2 separate regions of the Homo sapiens genome follow, and region 2 is linked to region 1. Evidence: fine-mapped expression QTL. Tissue or cell type: ileum. Region 1 holds a variant in brackets; the other region holds the start of a gene. All regions are shown on one strand. Distances are from middle to middle.

Region 1 (8,109 bases):
CAGCAGCATTATTCATGGTAGCCTAAAGGTGGTAACAACCTCAAATGGCCTGTCAGCAAATGAATGTGTAAACTAAATGTGGTCCATCCATATCATGGAATATTCTTCAGCCCTAAAAAGGACTGAAGCTCTGACACAGGCCACCACATGAGTGAACCTTGAAGGCAATTTGCTAAGTGATGGAAGCCAGTCATAAAACGCTGTGTTCTGTATGATCCCATGTAAAGGATAATTCAAAACAAGGAAGTCTATAAAGATGGAAAGTAGATTTGTGGTTGCTTAGGGATGGGGGCAGGGGGTGTTAAGGTGGTTATAGCTAAAGGGTACAAAGTGTCTTACCAAAGAAATCAAATGCTCGGCTGGGAGCGGTGGCTCACGCCTGTAATCCCAGCACTTCGGGAGGCCTAGGCAGGTGATCACCTGAGATCGGGAGTTCGAGACCAGCCTGGGCAACATGGTGAAATACTGTCTCTACTAAAAATACAAAAATTAGCTGGGTGTGGTGACGCGTGCCTTAATCTCAGCTACCCAGGAGACTGAGGCAGGAGAATCGCTGGAACCCTGGAGGCAGAGACTGCAGTGAGCTGATATCACGCCACTGCGGTCCAGCCTGGCAACAGAGCGAGACTCTGTCTCAAAAAAAAAAAAAAAAAAAAAAAAAAATCAAATGCTCTAAAACTGATAGTGGTGATGGTTGCACAACTCTGAATATACTACGAAACACTGAATTGCATGCATTAAGTGGGTAAATGATATCATATGTAAGCTATATCTCAATAAAGTTGTTAAAAAAATAGTTTCTACCCAAAGGAAAATAAATCATTCTACCAAAAACACACACGGACACATATGTTCATCACAGCACTATTCACAATAGCAAAGACATGGAATCAATCCAGGTGCCCATCCATGGCAGACTGGATAAAGAAAATATGGTACCTCTACACCAAGGAATACTACACAGCCATAAAAAGAACAAAATCATGTCCTTTGCAGTAACATGGATGGAGCTGGAGGCCATCATCCTAAGGAAATTAAGGCAGGAACAGAAAGTCAAATAGCACATCTTCTCATTTACAAGTGGGAGCTAAACATTGAGTACCCATGGACATAAAGATGGGAACAATAGACTCTGGGGACTGCTAGACGGGAGAGGAAGGAAGGGGGACAGCGGATGGAAAGGTACTTACCAGGTACTAGGCTCACTACCTGGGTGACAGGTCCATTAGGAGCCCAAACCTCAGCATCATGCAATATACCCAGGTCAGAAACCTGCACATGTAGCCCTGAGTCTAAAATAAACATGTAAAAAATTAAAAATTAAATAATTTTAATTTAACTTAAATTTTTAAAAAATTGGCCAGGCACAGTGGCTCATGCCTGTAATTCCAGCACTCTGGGAGGCCGAGGTGGGCAGATCACTTGAAGCCAGGAGTTCGAGACCAACCTGGCTAACATGGTAAAACCCTGTCTCTATGAAAAATACAAAAATTAGCCTAACTTGGTGGTACATGCCTATAATCCCAGCTACTCAGGTGGCTGAACGAGGAGAATCTCTTGACCCCGAGAAGTGGAGGTTGCAGTGAGCCAAGATTGCAGCACTGTACTCCAGCCTGGGCAACAGAGTGAGACTCTATCTCAAAAAGTAAAAATAAAAATAAAAAATTAGCTGGACATGGTGGTGTGTGCTTTTCATCCCAGCTACTTGAGACCGTGCCACTGCACTCCAGCCTGGGTGACACAGAGAGACCCTGTCATAAATAAATAAATAAATAAATAAACAAATAAATAAATAAATAAAATTAGAAAGACCCATAAGAGCATTACTCCACCAAAAACCAAAAATACTTCAAATGAAAAATAGCATGTAATTTTACCTAATGTGGAAAAGACAATGATTTGAAATGCATCGAAGTTTTGTTTTAATAAAATAATGATGAAGTAGTGGGTTGAAGATTCAAGGCCAGACTCACACCTGCGTACCTTCTCATCCTCTGAACACAATAAGGACACATTCTCTCCGTTGTATAGCGCCTTTTATAATCCATTGCACACCAAAAACTTTATCATCATTTCCCTGTTGCAGTTTCAATTTCTTCCCAGGTACTTTTCACAGCCCGTCTGTATCTTCTCTTCGTTAAACTTCTTCTTCCTATCTATAGATCTGTTTCACACAGAACTAACATCTGTGACCCAAATGGCACACTGCTATTTATTTAAATCTAAGATCGCAGATCTGGAAGAAATCATGAATAATCTAGTCCAGGTGTCCTGAGTCGTAGGTTAAAAAACATCTCAAGTGGAATCAACCCAAATGACCATCAGTGGATGAAGAAAAACACAACGTGGTCCATCCACACAAGGGAACATGATGCAACCCTAGAGAGGAATGCGGCTCGGAAACAGGTTACAGTGTGGGTGCACCTGAATAACAGCACACTCAGCGAAACGAGTCAGACACAAAAGACCACGTGCTATATGATGCCATTTATATAAAGTGTCCAAAATAGGCAAATCCACAGAGACGGAAAATACATGGCCATTAGAGGCTGGGGAGGCGGAATGGGAAGTGACTGCTAGTGGGTACAGGGTCCCGTTTTGGAAATATGAAAATGTTCTGGAACTAGATAGAGACGTGGTTGTGAACATACTAAATCTCACTGAGCTGTACACTTTAAAATGGTGAATTTTGCCAGGTGCAGCGGCTCTCGCCTGTAATCCCAGCACCTTGGGAGTCCAAGGTGGGTGGATCACCTGAGGTCAGGAGTTCGAGACCAGCTTGACCAACGTGGTGAAACCCCGTCTCTACTGAAAATACAAAAACTAGCCGGACATGGTGGTGGGCGCCTGTAATTCCAGGTACTTGGGAAGCTGAGGCAGGAGAATTGCTTGAACCCAGGAGGCAGAGGTTGCAGTGAGCTGAGATTGCACCACTGCACTCCAGTCTGGGCAACAGAGTGAGACTCTGTCTCAAAAATAAATAAATAATAAAAATAACAAAATGTTGAGTTTTATGTTCTATAAATTTCCTCTCCATAGAGAAAAAATTAGTCTTCTCCTAAGTCTCAAAACCTACGGTGGGCATCACTTCAGTTACCCCAAAAGTTAAGAGCCAGGGCCAGGCACAGTGGCTCATGCATGTAATCCCAGCATTTTGGGAGGCCAAGGTAAAAGGATCACTAGAGCCCAGGGGCTCAAGACAAGTGGGGCAACACAGCACGACCCCAACCTTACAAAAAATAAAAAACTAAGTGGGTATGGTGGAGCACACCTGTGGTCCCAGGAACTCAGGAGGCTAAGCTGGGAGGATCGCTTCAGCCCAGGCAGCCAAGGCTGCAGTGAACCACGATTGCACAACTGCACTCCAGCCTGGGCAACAGAGCAAGACCTCATCTCCAAAAAAAGTTTAATTTAAAAAGAAAGTTAAGAGCAGAGACAATCCTGTCCTCCCCATCCCCACATTGTCCAACACTCAACAGACAAACAGATACCAGTCTTCCTTTATATTTTTTTCTTTTTTGAGACAGAGTCTCACTCTGTTTCCCAGTCTGGAGTGCAGTGGTGCAATCTCAGCTCACTGCAACCGCCGCCTCCTGGGTTCAAGCAATTCTCCTGCTTCAGCCTCCCAAGTAGATGGGATTACAGGCATGTGCCACCACACCCGGCTAATTTTTGTATTTTTAGTAGAGATGGGGTTTCACCATGTTGGCCAGGCTGGTCTCAAGCTC[C/T]TGACCTCAAGTGATGCGCCCACCTTGGCCTCTCAAAGTGCTGGGATGACAGGCCTGAGCCACCGCGCCCAGCCCTTCCTTTATATTTTCGCATGGCTTCATCTTAAAAGATTTATCTGTGCACCTCTTTGGGGAAATTTTTGCAAACAAATATTTCTGTCTGGCCATTGGGAATTTGAAAGATGTTTAAATCTTATTGACTTTACAATCTTTCGTGGGTTTCCTAGAAGACAACATAGAAACCTGATGGACGTAGAAGGGAAGGGTAATATAGAATTAGCAGAAAGTTTGTCAATTAAGATCCATACTTATTTATAAGATAATAACATTGGCCTCATCATGAAAAAAGTGCAGGTAAGTGGCACACCAATTATATCCCAGCTAGAAGTAACAATCAATGGTGTGAAAAGATAATTCTACTTATCATGTGGTCAGAAACACCTGAAAGTACCTCAAGCATATAGAGCTTCCAGTGCTGGGTGACCAGGGGAGAAAACCATGAGTTTTCAAACCTGTCCCAGCACATTCCTGAAGTTTTCACTTACTTTTTTTTTTTTTTTTTTTTTAAGACGAAGTCTAGCTCTGTTGCCCAGGCTGGAGTGCAGTGGTGCTATCTCAGCTCACTGCAAGCTCCGCCTCCCGGGTTCAGGCCATTCACCTGCCTCAGCTTCCCGAGTAGCTGGGACTACAGGCGCCCATCACCACGCCCGGCTAATTTTTTTGGATTTTTAGTAGAGACGGGGTTTCACCGTGTTAGCCAGGATGGTCTCGATCTCCTGACCTCGTGATCCGCCCGCCTCGGCCTCCCAAAGTGCTGGGATTACAGGCATGAGCCACCGTGCCCAGCCAGTTTTCACTTACTTTTTTTTGGTGGGGGCGGGATTGGGGGCAGGGTCTCCGTCTGTTGCCCAGGCTGGAGTGCAGTGGCATGATCATAACTCACTGCAGCCTCAAACACCCAGTCACAAGTAATCCTCCCACCTCCCAGCCTCCCAAGTAGCTGGGACCACAGGCATGCACCACCATACCTGGCTAATTTCAAATTTTTGGTAAAGACAGGGTCTCACTATGTTGTCCAAACTGGTCTCAAACTCCTGGGCTCAAGGAATCCTCTGCCCTCAGCCTCCCAGAGAGCTAAGGTTATGGGCATGAGCCACTGTGCCCCGACTTCCACTTACTTACTTTGGAAACAAGCTGCATCCCACTAGAGAAGTCCCAGCATCTGCAGGTGCTGTATAGGATGACGATGAAGTTCTTCCTACTCCATCAAGACCATCAGCCAAAGGAAAGAGAGCACATTGCTCCAGGCTGGAGTAGGTGTTACAGACTGAACCATGTCCCTTCAAAATTCATATGGGGAAACCCTAACCCTAATGTGGCTGTATTTGGAGATAGAGTCTATCAGCAGATAATAAAGACTCAATGAGCTCATAAGAGTGGGGCCCTCATCCTATAGGACTTGTGTCCTCATAAGAAGATGAAGACAGATCTCTCTCTCTCTCTCTCATTGTGATAAGAACCCTTAATATGAGATTTACCCTCTTAAATACTTAAGTACATAATAGAGTATTGTTAACTATAGGCATGATTCTGTACAGTAGATCAGAGCTTATATGTCTTGCATAACTGAAACTCTGTACCCACTAAACAATTCCCCATTCCTTCTTCTGCCAACCCTGGACAACCACAGTTCCCTCATTCTCTCTCTTTCTCTCTCTTTCCATCTCCACCACCGCCTTTCTGCTTTAGGACAAAGGAAAGGCCATGTGAGGATACAGTGAGAAGGTGGCCATCTGCCAGCCAGGAAAAGAGTCCTCACTAGACCCCAATCTTAACAGCATCCTGTTCTTGGACTTCCGGCCTGCAGAACTGTGAGAAAATAAATTTCTGAGGACTGTGGGACCTAGCAGACTAATATGGTGAGTGTTTGTCCCCAGACAGGAATGCCTGAAGTTGGGACTCTTGGACTCAATAGAGCTGTATACGTCCATTCTCACACTGCTATGAAGACATACGTGAAACTGAGTAATTTATGGAGAAAAGAGGTTTAATTGGCTCACAGCTTCACAGGCTGTACAGGAGGCATGGGTGGGGAGGCCTCAGAAAACTTACAATCATGGTGGAAGGCGAAGGGGAAGCAGGCACAATCTTCACATGCCCAGCAGGAGAGAGCGAGAGTGCACAAAGGGGGAAGTGTCACACATTTTTAAACAACCAGATCTTGTGAGAACTCACTCACTACAAGAACATCAAGGAGGAAATCCGCCCCCATGATCCAATCACCTCCCACCATTCGGAATTACAATTCAACAGGAGATTTGGGTGAGAACACAGAGCCAAACCATATCAAGAGCTAGGTCAGGATCAAGCGTCTGTCTCCTCATTTTATAAGGATAGCAAAAGCATTAGCTGCAAGTTACTGAATTCACATGGTTTAACTGTACAGACTGCACCCAAAGGTTATTTCAGAGACAACACAGATAAGCTTTTTGAGACCAGGTTGTTTCCAAAGGTAAGGGAAGATTGAACTACACACTGTTTGCAAAGCAGCTAACTTATGTATGATACACTATGCACAACTACCGGAAAAGAACATACAGGAAGGTGTTGGAAATGAACTCTGTGGCTCCTCCCCTCTTCCAGATGTGGTTTTAAAAAATGCCCATTTTCTGTTCCTCAAAAAATTAAAAATAAATCTACTGTGACCCAGCAAGCCTACTCGTATTTGTCCAAATGAAATAAAATCAAGATCTCAAATAGACATCTGCACCCCCATGTTCACTGCAGCATCATTCACTATAGCCTGGGCATGGAAACCATCTAAGTGTCCGTGGATGGATGAATGCGTAAAGAAAATGTCATGCATATATACAGTGGAATCCTATTCAGCTTTAAGAAAGAAAGGCAACCAATCATTGGCAACAACACAGATGAACCTGGAGGACATTATGCTAAGCAGAATCTGCCAGGCACAGAAAGACAAATACTGCCATGTCTCACTTATATGCAGAGTATAAACTCATGAAACTCATAGAAGCAGAGGATGAATGGTGGTTGCCAGGTGCTCCGAGGAGGGGCAGTAGGGAGTTGTTCTGTGGGTATAAAGCTTCAGTTATACAAGACGAATAAGTTCTGATCTGCTGTCTACAACACTGCGCCTGTAGTTAATAATACTGTATTCTGTACTACTCAGCCATAAAAAGGAATGAAATAATGGCAATTGCAGCAAGCTGGATGGAATTGGAGACCATTATTCTAAGTGAAGTCATTCAGGGATGGAAAACCAAACATCGTATGCTCTCACTTATAAGCAGAAGCTAAGCTATGAGGATGCAAAGGCATAGGAATGGCATAATGGACTCTGGGACTCAGGGGGAAGGGTGGGAGGGGGGTGGGGGATCAAAGGGGACACACTGGGTACAGTGTATACTGCTCAGATGACGGTGCACCAAAATCTCAGAAATCACCACTAAAGAACTTATACGTGTAACCAAACACCACCTGTTCCCCAAAAACTATTCAAATGTTTTAAAGAGTTAACAAGTAATAATAATACTGTATTGCATACTTAAAAACTTGAGAGGATAAATCTCATGTTAGATATTCTTACTGCAATTTTTTTTAACGTGTCTGTTTCCTGGTTCTATCCAAATCTTCTGATCTGCCACTATCTGACTCTCTGTCACCTAAGAATTTCCTTCAGTGGCCCCCACTAAGACGTCCCGCATCCTACTCAGCCATGGGACACCTGCAGCTTTATTTCAGGTCACACAGGCTAATGTCAGGGAATCCACTACTCTCTGTCAAACCATAGGTACACAGCATTTCTTAAGTCCAAGATGTCTCTATACTTCCACTGGCTTCTCTTGTCATAGTCCAACTCCATGCCATACTGAAGTTTGAGGAGGTTCATTCTTTTGTTTTCCAATTCACTTTAGAAAAAAAATTAAATAAATAAAACACACACTCTAGAATCTCATCCTTTCTCTCCCCAAGAGGTAAAATCTCAGAGCAGGTGCCCTGGGAAACTGCTGGGAAGATTCTAGCCTTGGATGAGGGTTGGAGCATGTGTTCCTAGTGAAAACTTTTAGAATAAAATTGGACCACAGCCACCGGGTATGGGTATAGGAACACATCCAGGTGAGGGGGATAGACAGAGCAGACCAAGATGGGAAGAAGAATTTGTAAATTCCCTCAGCTGTAGGAGTCCTGAGACAGACCCTTTGTATGGGGTGCACCTGGAAACATTCAAGACTTAGTCCAGAGTCCTCCTGACCTGAGAGCCAGGCCCCCCTACCCGAACTTGGAGACACCTCCATAGACAGCCATCAAAGTCTAAACAATGGGTAAACGATGACCCAGAACAGTCTTCCCATGGTGC
Region 2 (8,109 bases), 830 kb after region 1:
CCCCGCTACATCCAGCCAGTGTCGCCCTTACACAGCTGCATGTCAGGTAACTGGCCTTCCTGGGGCTTCTTCTTACAGGCCGGCTTTTGCACGTGCAGAGACGCTCCAGGGGATATTCTTTTATGCTAAACTGCGTCTTTTCAAACAAGTCCCTGTCAATGTTTTAAAAGTAATTTGCTTTCAAAAAATAATAATAATCATCAGTGAAAATCTCAAGTACAGATTTTACATGGGAGATTTCCAAACGTAATGCGTAAAAAAAAAGCAACGAGGGAAGATGCACCAAATGGGAGACATTGCATCCACACTAGATTCTTATCTTAGAGATGCTGAAGGCACGTGCACTGAACATCGAAGAGACACCGGAGGTGAAAAGCGAAACTGGGTTTGGGAACAGGGCCCAGGCGAAGCGTTGAACACAGGCTCGCAGCCCGGGGCTGAAGCTCAGGGCGGGAAAGGAGGGCTGGGATTCCTTCTCCCCGGAAGAGAATCAAAGGCTATATTGTCAGTCTTGCATGGGTGTTTCCTCGTCTGCTTCTTTTATCTTTATTTCTATTGCATTGTATTATATTTTACTGTATTCTATATTTTATTATTTTGTTTTATTTTAAATTCAGACAGGATCTTGCCGTGTTGTCCAGGCTGGTCTCAAACTCCTGGCCTCAAGTGATCTTCCCATCTCGGCCTCCCAAAGGCCAGAGTGTGCCAGCTGGGATTACAAGTGTGAGCCACCGCGCCCAGCCTCTTGTCTCTTTCTAAAGATACCTTGTGTCTTTAGAATAAAAAAGTAGAAAGTTTTATTCAGTAGTAAAAATTAAATCTGGACCAAAATGTTTAACATTCCAAGGGTTAAAGTGCAGAGTTCTTTGGAAAAGAAAAATCTGCTTTTATTGTGTCACTAAATACATAAATACATCAGTTCAGAGGTAGGCCACAGACTTGATATCTAACCGTACGTCATATGACTGTTCAAACATGTTTGAGGGTCCTATATTTAGACACCAATATAACCAGCCCGATAAAACAAACACAACCAGTCATGTTCCCCAGGCAAGTCAGAAGCAGCCCATAATATGCTTTTTCCTTGAAAAATCATGTACATATATATGTTATATGCATATATGTACTTGTTTTATATGTATATATGTACTATACATACACACATAAACATTTTTACTTTAAAAAGTACATATATTAACGTTACATGTATATACGTACATGTTTTATAGGTATATATGTTATGTATACATATATGTATGTATATATACATGCATGTACATGTATACATTATATACATATAAGCATACATATATGAACACATAAACATGTATGTAGATGTCTATAGGTACATGTTTATATGTTATATGTTTATATTTATACGTGCATATTATAACATGTATTTATATGTAGATGTGTACGTATATGTACATGTTTTATGTATCTATACATATATGTACATATATATTTTAAAGTATATATTATTTTTGTAAAGAAAAGCATGCATATTTTAATAAAGAAAAATTATGCTTTATTATATATTTATATATTATATTTATATATTTTATTGTTTTGTTTTTTTTTTCTAGAGATAGGCTCTCACTTTGTTGCTCAGACTTAACTTGAACTCCTGGGCTCAAGCAATCCTCCCACCTCGGCCTCCCTAAGTGCTGGGATTATAGGCGTGAGCCACCACACCCAGCCTTATTTACATATTTTATGTGATACATTTATACTATGTATGATGTACAAAAGTTATACTATATTATATATAATAATTATGAATATATAAATTAAAATATAGGTGAAAATATTCCTTTAGGCCCCCTACGAGGAAATGACTTAAGATTTGTTGCCAAAAATCACAAAGTGAAAGCAATTACCATTAGGGCACACACCTGTGGCAGGAAAAGAAAACATTTCTGACACCCCTCCTAATACTCGTTTTGAGACATGCCACCAAAACCGTCCACTTGTAAAAATGAGTCAGGCTGGAGTGTGCCAGCGTGTCAGCTCCTCATCCCAGAAGTAGGGTGGTTTCCACCCCCACATAAGGAGGAAGTGAGATCAGGTAGGCTATGTGACTTCTCACAGACCCAGCATGTGGCTGCATATGAAGTTGCGAAGAGACAGCAGGTGGAACTCTATGAAACCCCGTCCTTGTAGGTCAAGGATGGTTGAATAATAGGGACCATTGCGTAGGGTTCCATTCTACAGAGTAACTTCCCAGCAATGATCATGCAGTGCCTCAGAAACTGCTTCCTGCCCTCTTGGTCTTGTCTTGTCTTTTCTTTTTTGAGACGGAGTCTCACTCTGCCGCCCAGGCTGGAGTGCAGCGGCACAGTCTCGGCTCACTGCAAGCTCCGTCTCCCGGGTTCAAGCGATTCTCCTATCTCAGCCTCCCAAGTAGCTGGGATTACAGGTGCACGCCACCACATCCAGCTAATTTTTGTATTTTTAGTACAGACGGGGTTTTGCCATGTTGGCCAGGCTAGTCTCAAACACCTGACCTCAGGTGATCAGCCCACCTCAGCCTCCCAAAGCGCTGGGATTACAGGCGTGAGCCACCGTGCCCAGCCCGTCTTTTCTATGTTTTTAAACCAAGCATTGCTTGAAAATAATCCTTTTTTTACTTTTTTTTTTGCTTATTTTTTTTCTTTTTATCTTATGTTTATTATTATTATTACTATAATTTTTGAGACAGAGTCTCTCTCCGTTGCTGAGGCTGGAGTACAATGCTGCGATCTTGCCTCACTGTAACCTCCGACTCCGGGGTTCAAGCAATTTTCTTGCCTCAGCCTCCCGAGTAGCTGGGATTACAGGCATGTGACACCATGCCTGGCTAATTTTTCTATTTTTAGCAGAGACAGGGTTTCACCATGTTGGCCAGGCTAGTCTCGAGCTCTTGGGTTCAAGTGATCGGCCCACCTCGTCCTCCCAAAGTGCTGGAATTACAGGCATGAGCCACTGCGCCTGGCCTTTTTACTTCTTTTGTTTGTTTGTTTATTTACTTTAAGAAATGTTTTCTTTTTTATTTTTATCTTATCTTTATTATTTCTTATTTACTTCATTTACCACTCAACAAATAACTTCTTTAAAACATTTTTTTTTGAGGCAGGGTCTTGCTCTGTCACTCAGGCTGGAGTGAAACTGCAGCTTCAACCTCCCAGGCTCAAACAATCTTTCCACCTCAGCCTCCTGAGTAGCTGGCAGTAGAGACACATGCCACCATGCCTGGCTAATTGTTTTATTATTTATAGAGACAGGGTCTTGCTATGATGCCCGGGCTGGTCTCGAAGTCCTGGGCTCAAGCGATCTTCCTGCCTCAACCTCCCCAAGTGCTAGGATTATGGGCATAAGCCACACTGCCCAGCCTAATATTTTTTATTTTTGAAGAGACAGCATCTCACTTTGCTGCCCAGGCTGCTCTGAAACTCCTGGCCTCAAGCAATCTTCCTGCCTCGTCCTCCCAAAGCGCTGGGATTACAGGCATGAGCCACCATGCCAGGTTGGATATGATCATATTATAGCCAGCACCCTGTGTAACAGCACAGGCAATCACTTAAAAACCTAAGGACACTGGCAGAATACGGTGACTCACATCTGTAATCCCAGCACTTCGGGAGGCCAAGGAGGGCAGATCACTGGAGCTCAGGACTTTGAGACCAGCCTAGGCCACATGGCAAAACCCCGTCTCTACAAAAAATAAAACAAAATAAAAACCTAAGGAAACTGACCACTGGTTTGGTAGACGTGGGCGTGGCTTTGAGATTCCCCCATGCTGCGATGTGGGGGGAGTCTGCTCTGTCTGTCCTAACTCTCTCTGATCTTCTGACTTGGGAAAAACAAACTCGAAGTTAATCATTCCCAGCTCAAAGCCTTGTGCAAGTGCTCTCTGCCTTCACGCTTGCTTCCTTTGGGAGAGAACCTTCCTCTTCTTGATCGGGGATTCAGGAAGGAGCCCAGGAGCAGAGGTGAGTCCTGTGAATGTTCATTTGTGCTGGATTTGGGCTCCGTGACCAGGCATGAATAGCGTGGTGAACAAAGAGCTCCCCGTTCCCTTTTCTGTCTCTGAATAATTGCCCAGTTTGTTTTGATAAAGCAGAAACGTACCCGTGACTTACAGGCCTAGGAATGCAGCTCTTTCCTGGAGAAGGGGGATCTGTTTTCTAATCTGCAGGAGAGGCCTTGGGCAGGCCCCATGCTCTGGGTCACCTCAATGTCACAGTTTCCAAAATTAAACTCATTCAAGGCTGTTATCACCATCTCTTTATTTATTTAACGTTTTTCTCCAAGAAAAAATATTCATATTTTTACTTATAAATACATAACATTGCGGGAGAAAGAAAAATTAGGTCGGGCACGGTGGCTCACGTCTGTAATCCCAGCACTTTGGGAGGTCGAGGCGGGTGGATTGCTTGAGCCCAGGAGTTTGAGACCAGCCTGAGCAAAAGAGGAAACCCCACCTCTACTTAAAAAAAAAAAAATCAATAGCCAGGCATAGTGGCATGTGCCTGTAGTTTCAGCTACTTGGGAGGCTGAGGTAGGAGGATCGCTTGAGCCCAAGAATTTGAGGCTGCAGTGAACTATGGTCGCACCATTGCTCTCCAGCCTGGGTGAAACAGCCAGACCCTATCTCAAAAAAAAAAAAAAAAAAAAAAAAAGGAAAAGAAAAGAAAAATTAGAAAAAGAGCACTTTTCCTAAATCTCCACACCCAGAGATAAACCACTGCTGGGCAGGATTGCTGCAAAAACCATCTTCCCCTAGTTTGTGGTGGTTTGGGGTTTTCTCATTACATTTGTACAGTATTTTGCTTTTATTCCGTTTTCTGACCATTGGCAGCATGTCATTGTAGGTCAGAAAGCAATGCTGAGGGTATTAAAATGCTCATTTTGGTTTTCTCTCCATGTACAATTTTAAATCAATCTCTTTCCCGGTGAAGATGCTATTAGGTTGGTGAAACGTAATTGCGTCTTTTGCTATTACTTTTAGAATATGAGAATTGTGTGTGCTCTCTAGGGTAAAACAAACGAACAAATAAACAAAAAAACCTCACGAGCACGGCGTACACCTTATCCCTTCCTTCTGTGTTCTAAACAAAGCACAAATGATATCTAAGGTCTTTTTCTCTTCGACAGACAGAAAATTATTGGAGATGTAGCAATTCAGTGTTAGACATCCATCAATAATGTAAGAAGTGCATTGATTCGGTCTGGAAAGGCCGGAAAACTTGAAGCAAAGGCAGGAAGACTGTAAGCAGGGAGGGGGCTTCCAGGTCACAGATAGGTGAGAGAGGAACAGTTGCCTTCTTTTGAGTTTCTGATGAGCCTTTCCAAAGGAGGCAATCAGATACGCATCTATCTCAGTGAGCAAAGGGGGGACTTTGACTAGAATGGGAGGCAGAGGCCCTAAGCAGTTCCCCGCTTGACTTTTCCCTTTAGCTTATTGACTTGCGGGCCTTGAGATTTATTTTCCTTTCACAAAGCTCATTGTCTTTCTCAGAAGACTGGTTTTGTGCCTGAATCCTGCTAGGAGCAAACACCCCTCCCAGCATCCCCGAAAAGGCGTTGAGGGGAAATCCCTCAACCAATCGCTTCTCTCCCACTCACACCCTGGGGTTTCGCAGCCCTGCGGACCTTGCCCACCCCTCCTCTCTGCCCTCCCCGCTCCCACACCAGCTGTGTCTATCCTTGGTCAGGTTTCACCTGGACAGACACCACGGCCACTTCTAGGCTCTCAGTGCCTGCTGGCTCCAGTGTGTCCTCACTCACTGGCCGCTCGGCCCTTCTAAAAGTGGCCAGGTCACTCCCCTGGTTACTCAGAGGCAGAAACCCAACACATCTGCATGCTCCTGTCTCTTTATCTTCTATGCATGCCCATGTCCTGTCAACGAAAAGAAGCGAACTCTGTAGAATATTTGAAGAGATTTATTCTGAGCCAAATAAGAGTGACCATGGCCCATGACACAGCCCTCAGGAGGACCCAAGAACGTGTGCCCAAGGTGGTCAGGGTGCAGCTTGTTTTATACATTTTAGGGAGGCATGAGGTGTCAATCAAATACATTTAAGATACACATTGGTTTGGTCCAGAAAGGTGGAACAACTCAAAGTCAGGGGGCTTCCAGCTTATACATAGATTTAAACATTTCCTGGTTGACAATTGGTTGAGTTCATCTAAAGACCTGGGATCCTAGGAGGCTGAGGCAGGAGAATCACTTGAACCCGGGAGGCGGAGCTTGCAGTGAGCCAAGATCGCGCCATTGCACTCCAGCCTGGGCAACAGAGCAAGACTCCGTCTCAAAAAAATAAAAAAGAAAGATTAAAAAAAAAAAAAAAAAACCCTGGGATCCCTAGAAAAGAAATCTTCAGGTTAAGAGAAAAGATTGTGGAGACCAAGGTTATTTTGAAGTCTTGTAGCGGCTGCCCTTAGAGACAATAGATGACAATTGTTTCCTATTCAGACTTTTAAAAGGTGCTAGAGTCTTAGTCAATCTTTTCAGGATTGGAAGGGTCCGGTAGAAAAAGATGTGAATATCTATGTGAATAGAGATTCTTTACATCTTTACAGATGCAAATTTTTCCCCACAAAGGACAGCTTTGCAGGGCCATTTCAAGATATGGCAAAGAAACATGTTTTTGGGTAAAATATTTTGATTTTCTTATTGGTCTCATGTTATGCCAGAGTCAGATTGGAAAGTAAGTCACAATATATAGTTAAATGAAACCCTTCTGATGAGAATTTTTGGTTTGTAGGGCATGACTCTCCAGACCCCTTAGATAGGAATTTGGGCAAGATAAAAAGAAAAATCAGAGCTTCGTCCTCAGTCCCATGCACAAGCCACATGGGGTCAGACCACTGCAGTACCCTGAAGGTGACCTCTTGCTGCCTGCAACTCTAATTGTTATCTTCCATCTCATTCCTTTCCTGCTCTACACCCTGGGCTCTCCCTCACTTCTCGGCGAGACTGAGGGGCCGCCCCTCTGTGCTTTGGGGGTCGCCCGTTTCCCTCTGTGGACAGAACATTTCCAAGTGTGGGCAATGGTCGCCCCCTCTCCCGGCAGCACCTACCCCTAGCAATGAAGGCGAATGCGTCTCTCCTTCATGCAGCACTCAGTGCCTGCAGAGTCCTCTAGGCCTTTTTCCTTCACACTGACACTCCCAGTTCTGTTTTCAAGTCTGGACCTCCTGGGCTCAAGCAAATCCTCCCACTTCCGCCTCCCAAAGTGCTGGGATTCCAGGCATGAGCCACCACGCGCAGCCTCTCATTGTATTTCTGATCTTCATACCCTCTACTCAGATTCTTTTGTGTATCATCCAAGCTTTGATCTTTCCCCGCTTCCCCCTTCCAAATCAGGACTCTCTCTCTGCATTTCTGGACATTAGGAATCACCCCTGCCCTGGGCTCGGGAAGCAGAAGACAAAATAATCTGCTTCCGGACACTGGGATTCTCTCATCACTTTGTGATCACTCATGGGCTATGAAAGCTGATAAAGGGGATGGAGACCCTATGACCACTTTCTTCCTCTTTCTCTGAAGACCATCTGGCTGTGTATTGAAACACGTTTTACATTCTTAACATAGTATTAAACATTTTTGAAGCCTTTTCACTCGGGAAGAGCATTCCTTTATAGATTTTGATCATTGTTTTAAGATATTTTTGCTATTGATATCATGAACGGGAATCAAAGTTCCCCTAATTACTTACTTACTGTTTTATTTATAATCAGGTCAATTTCTGCTGTCAATGTGATTGTGGACATCTTTATGTCTTACAGGAAGTAGAGAGAGAGACAACATGTTACATCTGCACCATTCTTGGTAAGATACAATTATATGCACTCATTAGTAGTCTCCTTTCTTTCTTTCTTTCTTTCTCTTCCTTCCTTCCCTTCTTTCTCTTCTTTTTTTTTTTTTTTTTTTTTTTTTTGAGACGGAGTCTCACTCTGTCGCCCAGGCTGGAGTGCAGTGGCGCGATCTCGGCTCACTGCAAGCTCCGCCTCCCGGGTTCACACCATTCTCCTGCCTCAGCCTCCCGAGTAGCTGGGACTACAGGCGCCTGCCACCACGCCCGGCTAATTTTTTGTATTTTTAGTAGAGACGGGGTTTCACC

Alleles and levels. Positions count from the first base shown, and alleles are read on the strand shown. Sizes are in standard deviations (SD) of each study's normalised expression.
For the expression in ileum of the gene that starts at base 3,854 in region 2, allele T in region 1 goes with a lower level than allele C (large effect, 1.2 SD a copy in GTEx).

What was found. PIP is the estimated chance that this variant, and not a neighbour inherited with it, causes the effect.
Region 2: ARSL starts here. The variant in region 1 is fine-mapped to the expression of ARSL in ileum (GTEx, PIP above 0.99).

Annotation. Positions count from the first base shown.
Region 1 is chrX:3,793,058-3,801,166 of GRCh38, reverse strand. No RefSeq gene overlaps it. Among named protein-coding and RNA genes, the nearest start is that of TRI-GAT1-1, 41 kb to the left of the region's middle. The variant C/T (reference allele first, on the strand shown) is at 3,729.
Region 2 is chrX:2,960,086-2,968,194 of GRCh38, reverse strand. ARSL (arylsulfatase L) reads left to right here and starts at 3,854. Exons shown (of 11, transcript NM_000047.3): 1 at 3,854-3,971; 2 at 7,775-7,817. The coding sequence starts at 7,795. RefSeq lists enhancers at 2,156-2,215, 3,546-4,369, 6,020-6,845, 6,846-7,669.